Regions from separate parts of the Homo sapiens genome. Here all the other regions are linked to region 2. Evidence: fine-mapped expression QTL. A gene starts in region 2. Each other region holds a variant in brackets. All regions are shown on one strand. Distances are between the middles of the regions.

Evidence for each region. PIP is the estimated chance that this variant, and not a neighbour inherited with it, causes the effect.
Region 1: its variant is fine-mapped to the expression of RFK in lung (TOPMed, PIP above 0.99).
Region 3: its variant is fine-mapped to the expression of RFK in tibial artery (GTEx, PIP above 0.99).

What each region holds. Positions count from the first base shown.
Region 1 is chr9:76,429,387-76,437,570 of GRCh38, forward strand. It overlaps a transcript of GCNT1 not described here. Among named protein-coding and RNA genes, the nearest start is that of GCNT1, 26 kb to the right of the region's middle. The variant G/C (reference allele first, on the strand shown) is at 3,257.
Region 2 is chr9:76,390,653-76,398,836 of GRCh38, forward strand. It overlaps RFK (riboflavin kinase), which reads right to left and starts at 3,774. Exons shown (of 4, transcript NM_018339.6): 1 at 3,438-3,774; 2 at 1,766-1,917. The coding sequence starts at 3,519. It also overlaps a transcript of GCNT1 not described here and the pseudogene RPSAP9. RefSeq lists enhancers at 3,045-3,858, 3,721-4,015, 4,193-4,432 and silencers at 3,223-3,712, 3,753-3,832, 3,853-3,912.
Region 3 is chr9:76,448,625-76,456,808 of GRCh38, forward strand. It overlaps a transcript of GCNT1 not described here. Among named protein-coding and RNA genes, the nearest start is that of GCNT1, 6.5 kb to the right of the region's middle. The variant G/A (reference allele first, on the strand shown) is at 3,390.

The DNA.
Region 1 (8,184 bases), 39 kb after region 2:
TGCTTTGCAAAGTGGTTGTATCAATTTATACTCCCATTGTGTATCAAGTAGTTTTTGCTGTGTAGCAAATCATTCCTTAATACAGTGGCCTAAAAACCAACATTTATTATTTCTCATGATTTTTTGGATTGGCAGCCTGTTCTCCTGGGCTGGTGATCTTGGCCAGGACTGGATTTTCTAAGATAGTTTATTCATATGTGACAGCTGGAGTCTCTCTCATCATTTAGGAGGCTAGGTCCAGCTTGCTCACATACAAGCAGAAAGATTCTTGCCAGCAAGAAAGTACAAGCCCTAATGAATAGAAGGTTTTCAAGCCTCTGTTTTCTTTCTTTTTTTTTTTTTTTTTTTGAGACGGAGTCTCGCTGTCTCCTAGGCTGGAGTTCAGTGGCGCAATCTCGGCTCACTGCAAGCTCCGCCTCCCGGGTTCCTGCCATCCTCCTGCCTCAGCCTCCTGAGTAGCTGGGACTACACGCACCCGCCACCACGCCCGGCTAATTTTTTGTATTTTTATTAGAGATGGGGTTTCACCATGTTAGCCAGGATGGTCTCGATCTCCTGACCTTGTGATCTGCCCGCCTCGGCCTCCCAAAGTGCTGGGATTACAGGCGTGAGTCACCATGCCCAGCCTCAAGCCTCTATTTTCATCACATTTGCAAATGTCCCATTAGCCAAAGCAAGGCACATGACCAAGCTCAGATTCAAGGGGCAGAGAAATATACTCTAGCCTTTGGTGGCAAAAGAGACAAAATTATATAGTAAAGCGTTATGTATACAGGAATGGGAGAAATAGGTGGCTGTTTTTTTGCAACCTACTATATACTGGCAGTGGGTGAAAGTTCTATTTCCCTACATTCTTGACAACACTTGGTATTACATGACTTTTAAATTTTTTGCCAATCCGAGAAGGATTTAAAAAATCTCATTATTGTTTCTATTTTAATTTGCATTTTTCTGGTCATTAGTAAGGTTGTATATCTTTTCACATAATTATTGACAGAACACTCATTTTTTTTTTAACAGGGTTTCACTCTGTTGCCCAGGCTGGAGTGCAGTAGTGGGATCATGGCTCCCTGCATCCTTGACCTCGGGGGCTCAAGTGATCCTTCCACCTCAGCCTCCTCAGTAACTGGGACTAAGGGTGCTTGCCACCATGTTCGACTAATTTTTTTTTTTTATTTTGGTAGAAATGAGGTCTCACTATGTTGCCTAGGCTGGTCATGAACTCCTGAGCTCAAGCCATCCTCCTTCCTTGGTCTCCCAAAGTGCTGGGATTACAAGAATGAGCCACTGCACCTGGTTAGTCCTCTTTTTTTTTGAGACCAAGTCTCACTCAATGGCCCAGGCTGAAGTGCAGTGGTGCAATCTCAGCTCACTGCAACCTCCGCCTCCCAGGCTCAAGTGATTCTTGTGCCTCAGGCCCCTGAGTAGCTGGGAATACAGGTGTACACCAAACCACACCCAGCTAATTTTTGTAATTTTAGTACAGATAGGGTTTCACCATGTTGGCCAGGCTGGTCTCGAACTCCTGACCTCAAGCAATCCACCTACCTTGGCCTCCCAAAGTGCCGGGATTACGGGCATGAGCCACTGTACCTGGCCTCATCTCTTAAAGTAACATGCACACACATACACAGGAAAAAGAATGAAAGAATATATATTGGAGTAGTTCAATTTGGGTAGTGGAGTTACAGATGATTTTTATTTTCTCATATCTAAATTTTCTAAAATGAACATCTGTTACAGAGGGAGGAAAGTAAATGAATATGTTAAAACGTCCTGGCAAAATCCCCAACTGGGCTAACAATAACTAGGTGCACTGAAATTTAGTTCTGACACTAACCACATGGAGTTAGCATCAGACTCCACAAGGTAAGGCTCAATCCTCCACAAGACTGCCCTCACATCAGATGCCAGCCCTTAGCAGGGACCCCAGGTCATCCATACTCTGACCTACTCGCTACAGATTTGGGGGTCCCATGATCCACTCAGTTTCAGTAACTTGCTAGGACAACTCACAGAACTCAGGAAAGTGCTACACTTATGATTATAATTTTATTATAAAAGTTACGCATAGGGTGAGGTCTGGGAGAGAACACAGAGCTTTCTTGCTCTCTCCTCTTGAAATCAGGAAACATCACCCTCCTAGCACATCAATGTGTTCACCAACCCGGAAGTCCCACTGAGCCTCCATGACCAGAGTCTTTTATTGGGGTTTCATTATCTAGGCATGATTGATTTAATCACTGTCCACTTGATTGAACTCAATCTCCAGCCCCAGTCGCCTCTTTGGAAGTCGGGAGGTCAGGCTGATATCAAAGCGCCAACCCTCAAATTAAGCGGTTGGTCTTTCCAGTGACCAGTCCCCTAGCTGTAGCCATCCAAGAGCCTGCCATTAATACCTCATTAACACAACAAAGACTCCTATCCCTTAAGAAATTCCAGGCCAGCCACGTTGGCTCATGCCTGTAATTCCTGCACTTTGCGAGGCGAGGTGGATGGATCAATTGAGGTCAGGAGTTTGAGACCAGCCTGGCCAGCATGGTGAAACCCCATCTCTACTAAAAATGCAAAAATTAGCCGGGTGTGGTCATGGGCACCCATAATCCCAGCTTCTTGAGAGCCTGAGGCAGAAGAATCGCTTAAACCCGGGAGGCAGAGGTGGCAGCAAGCTGAGATTGCACCACTGCACTCCAGCCTGGGCAACAGAGCAAAATTCTGTCTCAAGAAAAGGAAAAAAAAGGAAAGAAATTCCAAGGGTTTTAGAAGCTCCTTGCCAAAAGCATGAGACAAAGACCAAATTTTTTATTGGGTGACCTAAATATATTACATTTAGTATATTACATAAAATACATTACATCTAGTCCAAAAAAAATGTAGGCAATCCAAATTAAAATTGTCTAGTGAAAATATGGGCAATTGAGTCTTAAAATGTCTAATATCTAGTTTAATATATTTGTTTGTTTTTTGTTTTTTCAAGACAGGGTTTCACTCTGTTGCCCAGGCTCAAATGCAGTGGTGTAATCATGGCTCACTGCAGTCTCAACCTTCTAGGCTCAAGCGGTCCCACCTCAGCCTCCAGAGTAGCAGGGACTACAGGCACGCAGCACCATGTCTGGCTTATTTTTGTATTTTTTATAGAGACAGGGTTTCGCCATGTTGCCCAGGCTGGTTGAGAACTCCTGAGCCTAGGTGATCCGCCTGCCTGGGCCTCCCAAAGTGCTGGGATTACAGGCGTGCTCCACTGTGCCCATCCTTA[G/C]TTTAATATTGTCTTTCACATACTGATAGCGGTAGGAGGCAGTCAAATGACTAGGCAGATGGGGTGGATCCCTGGTAAAACCCCACCTTCAAGCCAAAGGCAGTTTAAAGCCTGAAAGCCAAGCTAAAAGTCTTGCATAAACATAGGAACTGGATTGAGAATCTCTTTCTATTTGTCATGCTTTCCTTTGATTGATCCTCACCCTTCACCTATTTTATATATACCTTCTCTTTCCTAATTGTTTTTTTACAGTCGTGCTCACCTTTGAACGGTGCCTTTGTTTTAGGCTTTTTTGGATACTCACAAACCAATTAGCATGCACTCCTGCCTTCTGAGCCCACAAAAGCCCCATACCCAGCCACACTGAGAGAGAGACCACCCGACCAAGTGGGAGACCACCCTTGTGGCCCCTCTCTACTGAGAGCTGTTTCATTAGCTGTTTCATCACTCAATAAAACTCTTCTCTGCCCTCCTCACCCTTCAATAGTCAGCATAATCTCATTCTTCTTGGATGCGGACCAAGAACTTGGGACCCCTCCGAATGCAGGTACAAAGACGACAGTAACACTGTAGCCCTCTGCCCTGCCCCCTCTTCGGAGCTCAGCAGTTGCCCCACGTAACGGAAAGCAGCAGGGCCAGGTCATCCCCAAACCTGTGGGCTGGAGTGGGGCAATGGGACTGACAGAACTGTTAACGTGCCCCTGTTCATCAGGCTGTGGAGGAACTAAAACAGCTGTTAGCACACTGTAACACCCCCTCTGGGGCTTTGGGGTTGCAGGTTTTGCTGTTTGTGTGCCACGGCGTACCCCTCATCTGTATGCTGGAGTCCACCATGGGAGTCACTTGCCACATGCCTGGGCCAGCCACTAGCCCCACATGTAGACTGCTCCTGTGCTGGCCTTTGGAGAGGCCAGCCAGACCCTGGACTCACTTGCCCACACACCCCCTCCTGCCAGGGGCTGAGTGCTGCAGTCGCGGTGGCCACAGGATCCATGCTGGAGTGCAAGCCAGGCACAGTTTGGCAGGCTGAGTGGGCAGGGTGCCTCTTGCAGGGAGCCCTGGGCTGAGGGAAGCCTGGGCAGGGGTATCACCGGCTGGAGGTTTCCTGCTGGCAAGGTGGTTGAGAAAAATCCTGTGTCAGTACCAGATAGTAGGATGTGTGATGGATTTAAGACAATAGGGGATTCTGACCCTTCTACTTTCTAGTGGCTGTGACTTCAGCCCTCAGTTTGTTGTCCTTCAGTGAACCTCCTCATATCCCTCAATTGTTGCAAAGTGCCACTGAGCTGATGCCTGTGAAAGAGCTCTGTAAAATTCAAAGTTATATAAAAATAATACAGCAGTTCCTCCTTATTCTTCGGTTCACTTAATCTATAACCTAAGAAGTAGAAGTTACAACTACATGCTGCATGACTCAGATCAGAGTCACATCTCTCTCAAGGCTTATAGTGTTTGGGGGATTTCAACAGCTTTTACATTTTATTTTCACATTATGCATAGGAAAAAGCATAGCACTTACAGGGTTCAGTACTATTAAGGATTTCGAGTATCCACTGGGGGTCTTGGAACGTATCTCCTGTGGATAAGGGGGGACTAATGTAGTATGATTATCATCATCAACAGAAGCTATGACACCAGGATAAATAGGCTAGAGAGAGCTCTCTGAGCCATAGGTCATGTTCAGGACTCACTATTGTGGGAAGTCAGGGACCCCGAATGGAGTGACTGGCTGGAGCCATGGCAGAGGAACATAAATTGTGATTTCATGGACATTTATCACTCCCCTAATAATACTTTTATAATTTCTTATGCCTGTCTTTAATCTCTTAATCCTGTTATCTTTGTAAGCTGCGGATGTATGTCACCTCAGGACCCTGTGATGATTGTGTTAACTGTACAAATTGATTGTAAAACTTGTGTTTGAACAACATGAAATCTGATTGTAAAACATGTGTGTTTGAAAAATATGAAATCAGTGCACCTTGAAAACTAACAGAATAACACCGATTTTAGGGAACAAGGGAAGACAACCATAAGGTCTGACTGCCTGCGGGGTGGGGCAAAAAGAGCCATATTTTTCTTCTTGCAGAGAGCCTATAAATGGATGTGCAAGTAAGAGAGATATCGCTAAATTCTTTTCCTAGCAAGGAATATAATATTAAGACCCTAGGAAAAGAATTGCATTCCTGGGGAGAGGTCTATAAACAGCCACTCTGGAAGTGTGGTTGAGATAAGGACTGAAATACGCCCCGTCTCCTGCAGTACCCTCAGGCTTATTAGGGTGGGGAAGAAATCCCACCCTGGTAAATTTGAGGTCAGACCAGTTCTCTGCTCTCGAACCATGTTTTCTGTTGTTTAAGATGTTTATCAAGACAATACGTGCACAGCTGAACATAGACCGTCATCAGTAATTCTAATTTTGACCTTTGCCTTGTGATCTTTGCTTTTGTCCTTGCCCTGTTTCCTCAGAACCATGTGATCTTTGTTCTCCCTTTTTCCCTTTGAAGCATGTGATCTTTGTGAGCTACTCCCTGTTCATACAGCCCCTCCCCTTTTAAAATCCCTAATGAAAATTTGCTGGTTTTGCGGCTCGGGTGGGCATCATGGACCTACTGATATGTGATGTCACCCCTGGCGGCCCAGCTGTAAAATTCCTCTCTTTGTAGTCTTTCTCTTTATTTCTCAGACTGGCCAGCAATTATGGAAAATAGAAAGAGCCTACGTTGAAATTTTGGGACCAGTTCCCCCACTGGTCCCAAATTCAGCCTCAAGAAGACTGAATTAGTCAGCTCCCACTACCATAACAAGTTACCACAGACTCTGTGGCTAAAACAACAGAATTTATTTCTTCACAGTTCTGGAGGCTAGCAATCCAAGAATAAGGTGCCAGCAAGTTTGGTTTCTGGTGAGGCTTCTCTTTCTGGTTTGTTGATGGCCATCTTCTCACTGTGTCTGTCCTCTTGTGTGTACCCACAAAGAGAGAGAAAGAGTTCTTAGGTGTCTTTTACTCTTCTTACAAGGACACTGGTCCTATTGTATTAAGGTCCCAGCCTTATTACCTCATTTAATGTTAATTACATTCTTAAAGCCCTATCTCCAAATACAGTCACATCAGAGGTTGGGACTTCAACATATGAATTTGGGGAGGGACACAATTAGGTCCATAACAAAGACCATAATCTTGAGTGGAAAAGAGTCCTAAGATTAGGGTTTTCACACAGTGAAGGGTCTTAAATTTATTGGTACATTCAATCCTGGAGCACTTCCTTTAGTAAGAATGACAGAGTGCTAAGCAGTAGTTCCCATATCTTTTTTTTTTTTTTTTTTTTTTGAGACAGAATCTCGCTCTGTCACCCAGGCTGGAGTGCAGTGGCACGATCTCGGCTCACTACAACCTCTGCCTCCTGGGTTCAATTCTCCCTCCTCAGCCTCCCCAGTAGGTGGGATTACAGGCATGTGCCACCATGCCTGGCTAATTTTTGTGTTTTTAGTAGATATGGGGTTTCACCATGTTGCCCAGGATGGTCTTGAACTCCTGACCTCAGGTGATCCACCTACCTCGGCCTCCATCTTATAAGAAAACATCTGTGTAACAAATTAGGATAGGGTTGTCCAAAGGGTGTTTGAGGAACATACCTTCCACAAGTGGTGGGAATTTGGGGGAAATTACACCATTTCCCTGCTTAGAAAGTCACAATGCCTTGGGAGGCAGAGGCAGGCAGATCACTTGAGGTCAGGAGTTCAAGATCAGCCTGGCCAACATGGTGAAAGCCCATCTCTGCTAAAAATACAAAAATTAACTGGGCATGGTGGCATGTGCCTGCCTGTAATCCCAAGTACTCCAGAGGCTGAGGCAAAAGAATCACTTGACCCTGGGAGGTGAAGGTTACAGTGAGCTGAGATCGCACCACTGCACTCTGCACTCCAGCCTGTGCGACAGAGTAAGATTCCATCTCAAAAAAAAAAAAAAAAAAAAAAGGCACAATAGCATATTAAAAACTGAAAATTTCGTCCATTTACTCAAATAACATTTATTGATTTATTGAATGCCTACTATTTTCCAGTCACAAGCTGTGAGTAAGACAGGAATTAATAGGAGCAACCTAACCTAATATAGGAAGTAAAGGCAATGGATAGTTGAATGCTGACTCCCTCAAAATGGATGGATAGCACCAGGCTTAGTTCAGTGCTTGTTGAGGTAAGAGAGATTGTCAGACAGAAAACCAAACACTGCATGTTCTCACTCATAGGTGGGAATTGAACAATGAGAACACTTGGACACAGGGTGGGGAGCATCACACACCAGGGCCTGTCGTGGGGTGTGGGGAGGGGGAAGGGATAGCATTAGGAGATATACCTAATGTAAATGATAAGTTAACGGGTGCAGCACACCAACATGGCACATGTATACATATGTAGCAAACCTGCACATTGTGCACATGTACCCTAGAACTTAAAGTATAATAATAAAAAAAGAAAAGAAAAAAATAAATATATGGGGAAAAAAAGAGAGAGAGAGAGATTGTCAGAAACATGTGAACAAGAGCAACTCCATCTTGAATAGGAGCTGGGTAAAATAAGGCTGAAACTTACTGGGCTGCATTCCCAGACGGTTCAGCATTCTAAGTCACAGGATGAGCTGGGAGGTCGGTACTTAGATACAGGTCATGAAGATCTTGCTGATAAAACAGTGTGCAGTAAAGAAGCCGGCCAAACCCCACCAAAACCAAGATGGCAATGAGAGCGACCTCTGATTATCCTTACTGCTACGCTCCCACCAGCGCCATGACAGTTTACAAATGCCATGGCAACGTCAGGAAGTTACCTTATATGGTCTAAAAAGGGGAGGCATGAATAATCCACCCTTTGTTTAGCATATCATCAAGGAATAACCATAAAAATGGGCAACCAGCAACCCTTGGGGATGC
Region 2 (8,184 bases):
GACCCTATCTGAAAATACAAAACAAAACAAAACTCTGTTCTTCAACACACCATTGAGAAAAAAAAAAAAAAAACCACACACACACACACAATGAAAGAAATTTGTAATACAACAATACACAGTTCCAACAAAGGAAGTGGATCTAGATGTGTTACTAAGAACTTATTTAAGGTCAGTAAGATAACGCTTTTTTTTTTTTTAAAGGACAAAGGTCTGGCACAGGCACTTCACAGATGTGTGTTACTGGCAAAGGCAAGCAAAAGTTCAATTTTCCACTGGTAAGATATGCCTATGTTTCAAATTCAATTTTTCCTAACACTCAAAAGGCATTCCTTAACTGGCTGTATAATAACATTTTTGTTATCTAAGTAGCTAAAGACAAATTAGTTATGGGCTATTGTCCCCTCCCCTTCTTTTCCTTCCTCATTCAACAGAATGGTATTTTGTGATCTTTCGATTGTTTTCCTTGTCTCCAAAAAATAATTTTCAAATCATTAATACTGAAAAATAACTGAAATACTGAGCAAAATGTTAAGTACTTCTGCGTCATTACTATTGCTTACGCCAGCATTTAGCTCTGTAGTTTTCCAGCAGTGACACACTTCACTTCTATTAACTCCACACAGAACAAAATTTAGCTTCACTGTAATTTGTTTTTGCCACACATTTGAGCTGACAAAAGATTCAGCCAAATCTAACAGATAAAACACTGAAGTTGTGGGGTCCTGTAAAGAGTAGGGCAGAAAAGTATACCCTCAGGTGGTTTAAAAAGGAAAGAGAAAAGCACCAATGTGGGACTGTATCAATAAGCACCATCCTCCATCCACCATCCATGTAGTAAACTGTTTTATCTTAAGAGGGTGACCAAGCGCAATTGATGCATGAAGTAAATGGTGAATGAAGTGCATTAATTGTGGCAAGCTCAATTTTATGAAACAGGCTTTTAAATCATTTTTATCTTTGGTCAAGTGAGTCTTTCACAGACAGCAATTATCAAAGTCAGTATTATAATTTTGGTTTGTAACTCCACTCTTTATTTTCTACATAATTTAAAAAATAAATGCATAAAAAAACCAATTATTAATCTTTGTTATTGGGTACCACAATGTATAAGGATGTAATCTGAGCCAGATGCAGGCAGTGGCATGTACCTATAGTCCCAGCTCTCTGGAGGCTGGAGGAGGATTACTTGAGCCCATGAGTTTGAAGCTACAGTGTGCTACAACCTGGCCTGTGAACAGCTACTGCACTTCAGTCTGGGCAACATAGTGAGACCCCATCTTTAAAAAAAAAAAAAAAGATGCAATTTCTGAGTTCTGTATGCTATTGAAATTAAGTTGGTATAAACTCAAATTAAACTTTTAGAATTTCAGGATGTTAAATATAAACCCCATGGTAACCACAAAGACAGTATCTATAGAAATACACAGAAAGCAATGAGAAAGGAATTAAAATGTCACTACAAAACAAAACAAAACAAAAAGCACACTACCACAAAAGGCAGTAATAGAGGAAATGAGGGACATAAAAGTTATAAGGCATATAAAAAACAAATAGCAAAACAGTAGATGTCCCTCCTTATCAGAAATTACTTTAAATGTAAATGAATTAAACTCTCCAATTAAAAGACAGAGATTGCCCAAAATTCCAGTATTTGAACTACGTTGTGATTACCACTGATAAGCTATTTCTGTAACGAATACTGTAATATATTATTCTAAGTCATCATACCATTTTCGGTTACAGAGCAAAATATAATGCTTACCATAGACTTCTTCGTATTCTTGTAATATGGGTTCCATCCTATGCTCACCACCATCTTATGGACATCTCCACTTCCAACACTGGCCCAACCATAGTAAATACCAGTGGATATATCAGCTGGAAGATTATCTACCACTTGCTCAGGAAAATTAGCTAAACAACAGAAGAAAATATTTTGAGTCTTACAAATTTCGTATTAAATGCCTGTAGCCGAGTGCAGTGGCTCATGTCTGTAATTCTAGGACTTTGAGAGGCCAAGGCAGGAGGCTCATGTTGAGCTCTGGGGTTTGAGACCGGCCCGGGTAACATAGTGAGATCTTACCTCTATTAAAAAATTAGCTGGGGATGGTGGCCTGCACCTATAGTCTAAGCTACCAGAGAGGCTGAGGCAGGAGGGTCAGTTGAGCCCAGCAGATGGAGGCTGCAGTAAGCTATGATCGCACTACCACTGCACTCCAGCCTGAGTGGCAGAGCCAGATTCTGTCTCAAAATAATAATAAGAAACAAACATTTGTAAAAATCACATGCAAGGCTAATGTAAATCATTACATTCACAAGACTCCTACAACTTTGCCTGTAAGTATCAATCCCATCCTTCCATTTTCCGGCTCAGATTTCCCTCTCCTATTCATGTGAATAGGTTATGAATAAAGTACCAGGTAAGTATATAAAGCTCTCCAAAAAAATCCATACTCTTTGAGTAGGATGCAAAAAACAAGTACCAGAGTAGATGGATTTTTTCAGATCTGTTCTTTCCTAACCAGGTACTGAATCACCTGAAAAGTTTCTTTCTTTTTTTTTTTTTTTTGAGACGGTGTCTCACTCTGTCGCCCAGGCTGGAGGGCAGTGGCACGATCTCGCCTCACTGCAGCCTCCGTCTCCTGGGTTCAAGCGATTCTCCTGCCTCAGGTTCCCGAGTAGCTGGGATGACAGGCACGCGCCACCATGCCCAGCTAATTTTTGTATTTTTAGCAGAGACGGGGTTTTACCATGTTGGCCAGGCTGATCTCGAACTCCTGAGCTCAGATGATCCGCCCGCCTCGGCCTCCCAAAGTGCTGGGATTACAGGCGTGAGCCACCACGCCCGGCCAAAGCTTCTTATTTTTCAAATACACAAGCTCAAGGCTGACTTAACAAGTCAAGACGCAGCTCTGGCATGTATTTCTAAGGATGAATTACAGTCAGGTCTCGATTATTGAAATTAATGTAGACAGACCAAGAAGGTTAGCTGACTCTCATTCAACTACCTATGTTATCATTTGGACATTACATAATTACAAATTAAAAACAAAACCACCTTAGACCCGGCTTGCGAGTTCAGCCGTTCTGGCCCACGTTACGTCTCTAATGGGCAAGACAAGCGCAATGCTTGACCAACTGTACCTTGGCTGGCCAAGGAGGCGTGAACGGGGAATCCTGCGATTCATCTCGGGCTTCCGGCCCTCACCACCCCTCAACCCCGTCCCCGCGGAGCTCGGAGCCAGAAGCAGGGACAAGCTCCCTCAACCGAGCCAACGGTCCTCCGCCACAGACAAGGGGATGCGGGAGGAGGAAGGGTGTGCTCTCTGCCCGCGGTCCGGAGGCCCCACGCCCCGGTCCCAAGTCCCCGGCTGCCGTCTCTCCCCGCTCCCCACGTGACCCGGCCCGGGGGACTCTGGCCGCCCTGCTCTCACCTGTGGGGATGCCCAGCTGCTTGGAGCCGCGGCCGAAGCCCCGCACCACTTGACCCCGGCAGAAGTAAGGCAGGTGCCTCATAATGCAGTCCGCTCGGGGAATGGGCTGCGGCCCGGTCTGCGCGTCCTGCGGAGCCGCCGTCGACGCGGCGCCCAGACCCCGGACCAGCCGGGGGACAGGAGCGTGAGCTCTGCCTGCCGCGGGGGCGCACCAGTGGCCGGACGACGCCGACCACAGGCCACTGCGAATCCCTGACGCCGCCGACCCAACAAATACCGCCGGGCGCCTGAGGAGCTGCGTCTCCGCTGGAGGGCAGCGGAGACAGCCGAAGTAAGTGCCGGGTGTGAGCGGGGTGGGGGGAGGGGGCGGCCCGAAGCGCAGAGCCGGCCTCCGCGCCGCCGGCGTGCGCTCCCTTCCTCAGCCGAACGCCTCGAGCCCGCTCGGCTTCCGTAGCCCCGCCCCATCATGGCCCCGCCCCGCCGCTGCCTCGCCCGGCTCCCGCCGCAAGCTCCCGCTGCAGGCTCCCGCCCCAGGCGCCTAATGTCTGGATCCCGGGCTTCGTTTCAGCCCCTGGCGATGGGAACTAATGTGGAAACCCCGTTTTCAGCCTGAGAGCCGCGAAAGCACAATTCTCGAACAATTCTGGTTTTTTTTTCTCCTTCCTCCTGTTCATAACAATCCGGAAGCCAAAGTGAGACGCTCTTTAGCTCCTTGGCAACCGCTGGGTTGAACGTCAGGCATCGCTCGTTCCGTTCGCTCTTTAAGTATTTATTAAAGCTCCAAAATTCAGCTCAAAGATCGCCTCTTCACAGAGGCTTTTCCTGGCCGCCCTACCAGAAGCGGTCGTCCTCCAGGACCACTGACCACGTTCTGGAGTTATTAATATATTCGAATGTAAGCTCCAAGGGAGAAGTCCCTGTCTGTGACGCTGTTAACCCCAGAGACTAGTGGAAGGTTACCGACATGGGCGGTGACTGTCCCCTCCAGGCTGTCTTCTTGACAATTTCACAAGCCCGATAACAGGCCGTCCCTCTACTGCAATGCAGATAGAGGCCTTCGTACCCTCGGAACTGTAAATACGCACGCTCCTAGGGAAGTAGCTCTGGGCTCACTCACAGGATATGCAGGGTGCAAGGTTATAAGAAGGTGCATCCTCTTAACGTCTCGAAGACAAAGAAGTTTTTTATTTATTTTTTTAAATTTTTAATCAATGGAATCCAGAGAAGTTTAATTTTTTTCTTTTTTGCTCTATACATTTGTATAAAATTCTGTGCAGACCGTGTAGTCTCTTTCTACCTTACATGTATGCATCTCTGATAAGATTTACCTGATATTAAATTTATGTTCTAGGCCAGGCTTGGTGGCTCACGCCTGTATTCCCAGTAGTTTGAGAGGCCGACGCGGGAGGATTGATTGAGCCCAGGAGGTCGAGGCTGCACTGAGCTATGATAACGCCACTGCACTCCAGACTGGGCGACACAGTGAGACACCCTCACCCCTTAAAAGAACTAGAGAAGAAGAAGGAAGGGAGGGAAGGGAAAGGAAAGGGGAAGGGAAAGTGAAAGGGAAGAAAAGGGAAGGGAAGGGAGAGAAGGACCCAAAGAAGCAATTATGGTCAGTTACTTATCTATACGGAATTAAACAAAGAATAATGAGAATAACGATAATAGTAATACCGGTAGTAAGAGTAGTAATAGCAAGTTGTGAAAAGCAATTAAGTTATCTGGAGAGGCTTAAGAGTTATTTTAGCAAGGTGTGTACAGGATTCTCTCACTCTTGACTCCCGTCCTTAATAAGAGTGCTGCATTCCTTCTAATATAGGGAGGATGTCTCTCATATGGTAATTTCATCTGCTTCTAAGAAACAGAAAAGAGGTCAGAATGATTTTTTTGTATCTATTGTTTTTCAAGTGCTTTTAATTCAAAATAGTCAATATGCAAGAATGGTATATTTTTAACTTCATCAGCAGTGATACACCTAATAAGAAAAGCCTGGAGGTGAGAACTTGATAAATCATCCCTGGGTCTTACGCCACTAAGCCCTAGGTTGCAAGAAGGTATGAGAATTAAATGAGATAAAATAATTAAATGAATCATAGGAGGTAAATGAGGAGGGGTGGTTTTAAGAATAGAGAAAATGCTAAGTATTTTTCACACTGTCTCATGTAATCCTCTCATCAGCTTTGTTGGAAAGCATTAACCTAAACGTATAAAAATGGGCGGGGCATGGTGGCTTACGCCTGTAATCCCAGCACTCTGGGAGACCGAGGTGAGCGGATCTCTTGAGCTGAGGAGTTCAAGACCAGCCTGGGCAAAATAGGGAGACTTCCGTCTATCCAAAAATTTTAAAATAAAAATAAGTAAGAAAGAGAGAAAAAAGAAAGAAAAGAAAAGAAACAAGAAAAAAAAGAAGAAAGGGGAAAGAAAAGAAGAGGAGAAAATAAGAAAGAAAATTTTAAAAATCAGCCAGGGCCTGGCACAGTGGCTCATGCCTGTAATCCCAGCACTTTGGGAGGCTGAGGCCGGTGGATCACTTGAGCTCAGGAGTTGGAGACCAGCCTGGGCAACATGGTGAAACCCCGTCTCTACAAAAAATACAAAAATTAGCCGGGAGTGGTGGCGCTCACCTGTGGTCCTAGATACCCTGGAGGCCGAGGCACAAGAGTCGCTCGAACCTGGCGGCAGTTGCAGTGAGCTGGAGATCACGCCACTGCACTCCATATGGGGCAACAGAGCGAGACTCTGTCTCAGCCAGGTGGTGGTGGCTCGTGCCTATAGCCCCAGCTACTTGGGAAACTGAGGAGTGAGGATCGCCTGAGCCCCAGAATTTGAGGCAGCAGTGAGCTGTGATTGAACCACTGCACTCCAGCCTAATGACAAAGCAAGACACGGTCACTAAAAAAATAAATAGGCCGGGCGCAGTGGCTCTTGCCTGTAATCCCAGCACTTTGGGAGACCGAGGCAGGTGGATCACCTGAGGCCAGGAGTTCAATACCAGCCTGGACAACATGGCAAAACTCGGTCTCTACTAAAAATACAAAAATTAGCCAGGCATGGCAGTGAATGCCAGTAATCCCAGCTACTCGGGAGACTGGGGCGGAAGAATCGCTTGAACCCAGGAGGCGGAGGTTGCTATGAGCCGAGATTGCTCCATTGTACTCCAGCCTGAGTGACAGAGCAAGATTCCTTCTCAATAAATAATACATAAATAAATAGATAGATTTAAAAAAAAAAAGGAGAGTCTTGTAGAATGTTTAAGATGGAGCAGTCAGGCTCCAATCTTTAAAACTACCATTTACATGTCAAGTCATATGGGTAATTACTGTGTTATCAGCATAGGATATAGAAGAAAGAATTTTTTTTTTTTTTTTTGAACCAGAGTCTCACTCTGTCACTCAGGTTGGAGTGCAGTGGCGCAATCTCGGCTCACTGCAACCTCCACCTCCCGGGCTCAAGTGATTCTCCTGCCTCAGCCTCCCGAGTAGCTGGGACTACAGGTTTATGCCACCACGCCCGGCTAATTTTTGCATTTTTAATAGAGACAGGGTTTCATCATGTTGGCCAGGCTGTTCTGGAACTCCTGGCTTCAAGTGATCCACCTTCCTCGGCCTCCCAAGAAGGAAGAATTCTGATCATTTTCCACCACCGCTCAATAGCGTTCAATGGCTCCTCCCCTCTGACTGAAGAATAAACCCTCCAAGAGTTGTACTTCTAAGAACTCCCATCAAGTACTCAATCTGTTGATCAAAGCAGACCCCTCCACCTTGCTTCAGAGGCCAAAGCATATGCTTCAAATAATTCAATAATTATTCTGTAGGCTATAGGATTTATAATTTTTCTTCTTCATTTGACTCCAAAAATATGCTACCTAGCATTCTCAGTAAATCTAGAGTTGAGAGTCTATGTGTCTTTGCCAAACTTACTGCTTTTAACCAAGGAAGTATTCTAAAACGTGTTTTTTATTTCCCCCTCTGAACTGCACTTGCACATCCTTTCAGCTGCCTGTAGGGAAAGAGTCCACTTCTCTGGTTTAATTTGTCTCTGTAGAAAGAAGGATCACAAATAAGACTAAAGAGAAAGTAGAACTGGCAGCTTGTGAGGGAAAAGAAGGCTTATTCTAAGTAAGCAATGAAAAATGAATCTGAAGAATTCTTAAAATTCAGCAATAAGAAAATAAGCAACTCAATTAAAAAATGAGCAAAAGATCTGAATAAGCATATGAAAAGATGTTCAACATCATATATCGTGAGGGAAATACAAATTAAAACAACAATGAGATACTACTATATACCAATTAGAATGGCCAAAATTCAGAACACTGACAACACCAAATGCTGGCAACCATGTAGAGCAACAGGAACTTTCATTCATTGTTGGTGGGAATACAAAATGGTACAGCCCCTTGGAAGATAATATGGCAGTTTCTTATAAAACTAAACGTACTTTTACTATGTTATCCAGAAATTGTGCTCACTTATATTTAATCAAATGAGGTGAAAACTTTTATCCACACAAAAACCTATTTGTTTTTGCTTTCCGCGCTACCTACAGAGGGGCCCATACGGCGTTGTTCTGGATTCCCGTCGTAACTTAAAGGGAAACTTTCACAATGTCCGGAGCCCTTGATGTCCTGCAAATGAAGGAGGAGGATGTCCTTAAGTTCCTTGCAGCAGGAACCCACTTAGGTGGCACCAATCTTGACTTCCAGATGGAACAGTACATCTGTAAAAGGAAAAGTAATGGCATC
Region 3 (8,184 bases), 58 kb after region 2:
CACTCAGCCCCAGCAACAACTGCTCTCCTTTCTGTCACTATAGATTAGATTTGCCTCTTCCAGAATTTCAGATACATAAACATGAATCAAACGGTCTGTACTCTTTCGTGTTTGGCATCTTTATCTCCACATAAGGTCTGGAGATTCATCCATGTTGAAGTGTGAATCAATTTTGCTTTCTTAAATGTCATTCCATTATTTTAATATGATATGCTGCAATTTGTTGATCCATTCAGACAGGTACTTCTTTTAACTTGTTTTTGCTGGTAAACACCCTGATGGGCATCTGCTCACTGTACATGTCATTTTCTTTTGGACAGAAATGCTAAATTTACTATTATTTGTTCATTTATTTTATGTTTTTCCAAAATGGAAACATCTTTCTGAAACAATGGGAAAGGGATCAGAATATGCCACCCCAGGCTGGGCATGGTGGCAGGGCCTATAATCCCAGCATTTTGGGAGGCTGAAGTGAGAAGATCCCTTGAGGCCAGGAGTTTGAGACCAGCCTGGGCAATAAAGCAAGACCCTGTCTCTACCAAAAACAAAATAAAATAAATTAGCGGGGCGGGGTAGTGTGTACCTGTAGTCCTAGCTACTTGGTTCAAGATGACAGTGAGGTATGATCACACTACCACACTCCAGCCTGGGCAACAACAAACAAGACCCTGTCTCTATAAAAAACAACAAAAAAAAAAACAAGCAAATAAAATGATAATAGTAAAAGTAAAAAAGAATGTGCCACCTCAAAACATGCCATATTGGCATAAGGATTATTTTGAGCTAAAGGCAACTGAGAAACAGCAGACACAAGCAAAACTCTTTGCCCTCTCTCTTTCTACCTACAAACGTTTGCCTAATTTCCCTTTGCAAAGGTGATGCCCTCTCCCATACCAGAATAAGGTGAACAATTCATCTGCATAACACACCTCACTAAACAAGCCTTAATTACCATGCCTTTCCCAGTTACCTTCCCACAATTTACCCACACCAGAGAAGCGCAGCCTCTCCCCATTTCCCTTGTCTAGTAGCTTCCCACACTTTATCATCCTCTGTTAAAATGCTGTATAAGCTCCTGGGTCTAAGCACCTCTTTGGGATTTTCACTTTTTTTCTGTGAAGCTTACATATGCAAACAAAATAAACCTTTTCGTTTTTGTTTGTTTTGTTTTGTTTTTGAGACAGAGTCTCACCCTGTCACCCAGGCTGGAGTGCAATGGTGTGATCTCGGCTCACTGCAACCTCTGCCTCCTGGGCTCAAGTGATTCTCATGCCTCAGCCTCCCAAGTAGCTAGAATTACAGACGCCCAGCTAATTTTTTGTATTTTTTGTAGAGACAGGTTTTCGCCGTTTTGGCCAGGCTGGTCTCAAACTCCTGACCTCAAGTGATCCACCAGCCTCAGCCTCCCAAAGTGCTGGGATTACAGGTGTGAGCCACTGCGCCCGGCCCTATTCGCCTCTTTTTATAAATTATATGTAACTGATGGTGTGTAAATTCTGTCCTGTCTGGCAATAATTTAATTGGTTCCCGCCATCCCCACCCTATGAAAATACCAGTTTTGTTTCCATTTGCAATTCATCTTAACATTCCTTTACTCCAGATAAATCTGTGCTTTTTGACTTTTCCTTTGAAATGTTTATAACGTACATCTGATTCCCTTATAGCATATGCGTAAATTCCTTAACAGATGTGCACTTTTATATTTGTATGAGTCATGATTTTATCTTTCTCTGAAAATTATTTTTTAACAACCCTTACATTGTTTACAGTGTTTCGATTCTGAAATCTTTGTGTATTTGTAAAATTTCCTACATAGGATAAATTCCTAGATGAATAGTTGTCCATAAGTATCCATGTTGTCCAAATGCCTTCTAGAAAGTTTGTAGAAATCTCTACAACAGAGAGCAGCACAGGAGTCTGTATTCCTACACCTTCATCTATATTATGTTTATCAATCTTTTTCAACTTTGCCAATCTGATAGGTAAAAAGTGATTTGTAGTTTTAATTTGCTTTTCTTCAATTCCTATTGAAATTGAGCATCTTTTTATGTGGATTTCTTCTTTAGTGAAGTATCTTATCATGCCCTTTGCCCATTTTTCACCTGGTGCATATTTTTACGTAAACACCCCTTTATTTGAAAAATTAATTTTTGCTTACATACTATTGCATATATTTTCTAGTTTGTTGACTTTTAACTTTGTTTATGATATATTTTGTTATGCATACATTTAACACTTTAATGTATTAACTATATCAAACTATTTTGTGTGTGATTTTAGCTTTGTTGCCATTCTGAGAAATGCTGCCTGCTCTTAAAAGGGATCAACCTGTTTCTTTTTAAAAACATTAAAGAACTTACATGTATGGGTTTTAGAAACATATTTCAGGCTTTACTCTACCTGGAATTTGCATGCTTAGGAGCCACACTTTCTTTTTTTCCTGGACAGTACATTTATGATTGAATTTGCTTTCTCCATGCTTTGAAAGTAGTACCTTACTCTTTTATGTCTTCCTCATGTTCTTTTCAATGTAATTTGATTAAATTTCTAAAACAATTCAAAACTAATTTTGTAGCATTTGTCAAAATAAATCTGGATTTAGGCAAGGGGAGACTTTATTCAAAAGGATTATTGCAAGAAGAGGATGGGTGGCTATCATAAAAGGATGAGGAGAGCTCTTTAGCCAGTGCTATTTTTCAGAAAAACAAGGCTCTGGCAAAGATCAACACTGTTGACCTCCCTTTTGTTAATGATAAAAGAATATTATTCACCACTGAGCAATTCAGATGCAATCCTAAGCCTCCTACATGGGGTGAGTCAGGGACTAAGAAACGGTCTCCTGGGGACTCTGGTTGGTGTTGTTCCCACAAAACCAGCTGAAGCATCTGTTGAAAGGTGGTGGCAAAAATCAGTTGTTTAAGGGTCAGGTATCTTAAAATGAGGAATGCCTACCATTAAAAAGATAAATGTTAATTAAAAGTTTTAATATAAAAGGCCAAAGAAATATTAATCTTGGCATCTACAAGCCAAGGAGAGAGGCCTCAGAAAAAGCCCAACTCTGCTGACACTCAATTTTGGACTTCCAGCCTCCAGAATTGTGAGAAAACAAAATTCTGTTGTTTAAAGTACCAGTCTATGGTACTTTGTTGACAGACCTAGCAAAGTAATATACCTACAGAGAAAACTATGAAGTAGATAATTAGCTGTCTGTCATATACCAGCATATTGTAGCAGACTAGTCAAGCTTAAGGTTATATATCTTGTGACTTTTTTATAGCCATACACTTCCTTATAGTACAACTTTTCTTTTCTTTTCTTTCTTTCTTTTTTTTTTTTTTTTTTGTTGTTGTTGTTGTTGTTTTGAGATGGAGTCTCTCTCTGTCGCCCAG[G/A]CTGGAGTGCAATGGTGTGATCTCGGCTTACTGCAACCTCCACCTCCTGGCTTCAAGTGATTCTCCTGCCTCAGCCTCCCGAGTAACTGGGATTACAGGCCCCTGCCACCACATCCAGCTAATTTTTGTATTTTTAGTACAGATGGGGTTTCACCATGTTGGTCAGGTTGATCTCAAACTCCTGACCTCAGGTGATCCACCCACCTTGGCCTCCCAAAGTGCTGGGATTACAGGTGTGAACCACTGCACCTGGCCTGTACAACTTTTCAGTGTGGCAAGAATGAACACATCATTAGCAGACCAAAATATATTTAGCCTCTCTGTACTAAAAAAAATTTACATAAGCTTTAAATTATGCTCCACTAGTCTATCTTACTTAGAAATGATCTAGGTACTTATATTAGACCATTCTTGTATCGCTATAAAGAACTACCTGAGACTGGGTAATTTATAAAGAAAAGAGGTTTAATTGGCTCACAGTTCTGTACGCTGCACAGAAAGCATGGCTTGGGAGGCCTCAGGAAACTTACAATCATGATGCAAGTTGAAGGGGAAGCAGGTACATCTTACACGGCTGGAGCAGGGGGAGGAGAGGCAGGGAGGAGGTGCCACATACTTTTAAACAACCAGATCTCATGAGAACTCCATGACAAGACAGCACCAAAGGGATGGTGCTAAACCATTAGAAACCGCCTCCAGGATTCAATCACACTCCATCAGGCCCCACTTCCACAACTGGGGACTACAATTCGATATGAGATTTGGGCAGGGACACTGATCGAAACCATATCACCCCCGAAGTGGGAAGGGCTCCCTACCCAGCTAGTTTCCCCTTCAGCCAGACCAGCTGTACCCTACTTAATCTTCAATCTAAGGAGCTTTACCTACCTGCCAGCCCACAGAACTATTTGAACAAGCCAATTACATCCTCCCGTGGAATAAAAGGTTACCTCACTCTTGTGCCATTACTACAAAGCCTGCCTCACACAGCCCCTGCTGCTTCAGTCTGCTTTCAAATGCAATTCCCATGTGGCTCTGCCTGGCATGCAATAACCTCCTCACCCCTTAGGCTGTGAGTATGTAACTGAAAAAACTGTAGCCAATCTCATCTGCCCAGTATTGGGTGTCATCTGTTCAGCCATCTCCTGTTTAGCACAGGAGATCCCTGCTTCACCAGTGCTGTGAAGAGAAGGTGGTCAGAACAGAAGGGAGGCCTAATCTTGAGTGACCATGAGTTGAGGAGCTGGAGTGGGTAGGAAAAGGTGTGTAGGAATGGGTAGATGGGTGAAGGAGGTGGACAGATTAAATCATTCAAGGCAACAAAAGAGAAGGTTTAAAGTGGTAAAAAGGAGGGATGAGGATGATGGGAAGGGAGAAGTCTTAGATGAGCTGGTTTAAGGAGATCTCATGTTTCCCAAAGAGGCCTTTGAGGTTCTAGGTTACCTTTAGTAAATTGTGCCATTTTTGAGGCTATTAAACTGAATTAGTGCCATAATAGCAGGTACTCAGTGGGGGAAGAGGAGGGCATCTGATAGAGTGAGAGTTACCCATGGCATTAGTGGATAGTCAGCCCAAAGAAAAGTCTTTAAAGGAGCCAAGAAAAACTCCCACTTGATTAATTCCCTTGAACAATCCCCAGGTCGAGGAGCTGAGGAAACACAGAAGTCTCACAGGAGGGCCAAAGCATCTCTTTGCCTGAAACAATCAAAGTAACCTCTTACTGTTCTTCAACAGACAAGATGGCCAGAGCACTGGTTCAAGACTTGAACTCACCCAAGAGTCCTCAAGTCCTGAACATGGCACCTTTACCTGGGTGGGGCTGGTGGAGGTCCCTAGGTGAGTTCCAGTCTTGAGCTGGATCACAGCAATGAGAACTGTCAAATAAAAACCAAATCCAGATCTAGGTAAGGAGAGACTTTATTTAGAAGGATTATTGCAATAGAAAAAGAGAATGTCGCAATAGGGGAGGGACGGCATTCTAATAGAATGCTTCAACCATAAGATCTGCAAGCTTTTGAAAGGTCAGGCAGAAAAGGGTTTTTCTTTTTTTGGTAGTAGTAAACAATGTTAAAAAGAACCAGTATCGGCTGAGTGCGGTGGCTCATGCCTGTAATCCCAGCACTCTGAGAGGCCAAGGTGGGAGGATCACCTGAGGTCAGGAGTTTGAGACCAGCCTGACCAACATGGTGAAAACTCGTCTAAAAATACAAAATTAGCTGGGCATGGTTGGTGCATGCCTGTAATCCCAGCTACTTGGGAGGCTGAGGCAGAAGAATCGCTTGAACCCGGGAGGCGGAGGTTGCAGTGAGCTGAGATTGCACCACCATTGTACTCCAGCCTGGGCAACAAGAGCGAAACTCTGTCTCAGAAAAGAAAAAAAAAAAAAAAAAAAAAAAAAAAAGAACCAGTATCAGGGAGTGGGATGAGCAGGTGGCCCAATCAGGCAACTGATCAGGACAGAGTTTCTTTGTGGTCAGCTGGAAAAGGGCTTCTTGGGAGGGGATGTGATATGGTTTGGCTGTGTTCCCACCCAAACCCCACCCAAATCTCATCTTGAATTGTAATCCCCATAATCCCCACGTGGTGAGGGAGGGGCTTGGTGGAGGTGATTGGATCGTGGGGGCAGTTTCCCCCGTGTTGTTTTTGTGATAGTGAGTGAGTTCTCAGGAGATCTGATGGTCTTATAAGGCTGTTTTCCCTGCTCTTGCTTGCTCTCTCTCATCTGCCGCCGTGTAAGATGTGCCTCTTCCCCTGCTGTCATGATTAAAAGTTTCCTGAGGCCCCCCCAGCCAGGCAAAACTGTGAGTCAATTAAACCTCTTTTCTTTTCTTTTTTTTTTTTTTTTTTTTTTGTTAGACAGAGTCTCACTCTGTCGCCAGGCTGGAGTGCAGTGGCATGATCTCAGCTCACTGCAACCTCCGCCTCCCGGGTTCAAGCGACTCTCCTGCCTCAGCCTCCTGAGTAGCTGGGATTACAGGCGTGCACCACCACGCCTGGATAATTTTTGTATTTTTAGTAGAGACAGAGTTTCACCATGTTGGTCAGGCTGGTCTCGAACTCCTAACCTTGTGATTCGCCCGCCTCAGCCTCCCAGAGTGCTGAGATTACAGGCGTGAGCCACCGCACCCAGCCTTTAAACCTCTTTTCTTTATAAATCATCCAGTCTCAGAAATGTCTTTATAGCAATGTGAAAGCAGACTAATACAGGACATTAAGGGGCTTATTCCAAATTCCAATGCTGGTTTAGGCTGAGACTAGATTAAAGGGCAAAGACCTGATGGAAGGAGAAAAGCCTCATTGAAGTTTGATCAAGTAAGGTATTTGCCCAGATTGATCAGTAGGGGCAAATGGTTCAGCTAACCATTTATAAGATGAGAATGGAAATTTGGAGCGCATGTCTATGGCCTTGTTGTAAGTGTGAAAGGATGTTATCCATGATGATTACCTAAGTCATTTGGGGAAAGGTGGTTCTATGTAGTTAGTGGTTTCTCAGAAAATACAGCCGGGAGAGGATGTTCACTGGTCTCCAGTAACACAAAGTATAGGTCAAGCAACACCATCCCCTTACTTTTTTTTTAATTTATTCTTATTTATTTATCTATTTTTGAGATGGAATCTTGCTCTGTCACCCAGGCTGGAGTGCAGTGGCATGATCTTGGCTCACTGGAACCTCCGCCTCCCAGATTCAACCGATTCTCGTGCCTCAGCCTCCCCAGTAGCTAGGATTACAGGCATGTGCCACCGCACCCAGCTAATTTTTATATTTTTAGTAGAGACGGGGTTTCGCCATGTTGGCTAGGCTGGAACTCGAACTCCTTACCTCAAGTGATCTGCCCACCTCGGCCTCCCGAAGTGCTGGGATTACAGGCATAAGCCACCATGCCCTGCCTCTGTCCCGTTATTTGATTGTACTTGTAACTATAGTTTTATTATGACATTTTAAGAATATATTGCTATTGTATTAATCATTACTATGACAGCTGTGTTTATCAGACACTTTCCCACATCTATAATATTAGGAGAGTTGGGTGTTTGTGATCATGAGTTTGCTCCTTGTGCTGGTTATTGAAGTATGTCTTAGAGTTCAAACTCAAGCTTCTATCTTCTGCTTTGTGAGCCAGGGCTGGGACTTAGCAAATCACATTTCCTATAAGGTTTTGCTTATAAGGGGTGCTTGAGGAGAGGGACTTGCTACTTTATAGCTGCTTACTGTTCCTGTCCATGTTACCAAGCAATGGCTCTTCTCCCTGGCTGCAGCAACAGCTGGTTCCAGTTTCTTAGATTTGTTTGTTTGTTTTAATCCACCCTCTCCCATCCAGCCTCAATATTTACCTTCAGAGATAAAAGCACCAGCTGGGTACCGCCCCCTCCTTTGAGGTCTGACTCCCAGCCAACCAGGGGCCCTCTCCTGGCTGTTAGGTTCTGATAACCCCAACACTTCCCCTCTCCCCAGCTCTGTGCATGGCAGCTGCTTCCTGCAGTTACTCTCTCTCTGTTACTACAATGTTTTTGCCTTGCCAATCTTCATGACCTTAAATTCTCTGTAAAAGTAATTGCTGTGATTTCTGTTTTCTGACTGGGCCCTGACTGATACACCCCTAAGCATTCCAGAAATACCTTCTAAACTACTTGTATAGATTTATGGGTGTATGTTATTGCAGGCATTAAAAATAAGTGGGCTGGGCAAGGTGGCTCACACCTGTAATCCCAGCATTATGGGAGACTGAGGTGGGTGGATCGCTTGAGCGTGGGAGTTCAAACCCAGCCTGGGCAACATGGTGAAACCCTATCTCTA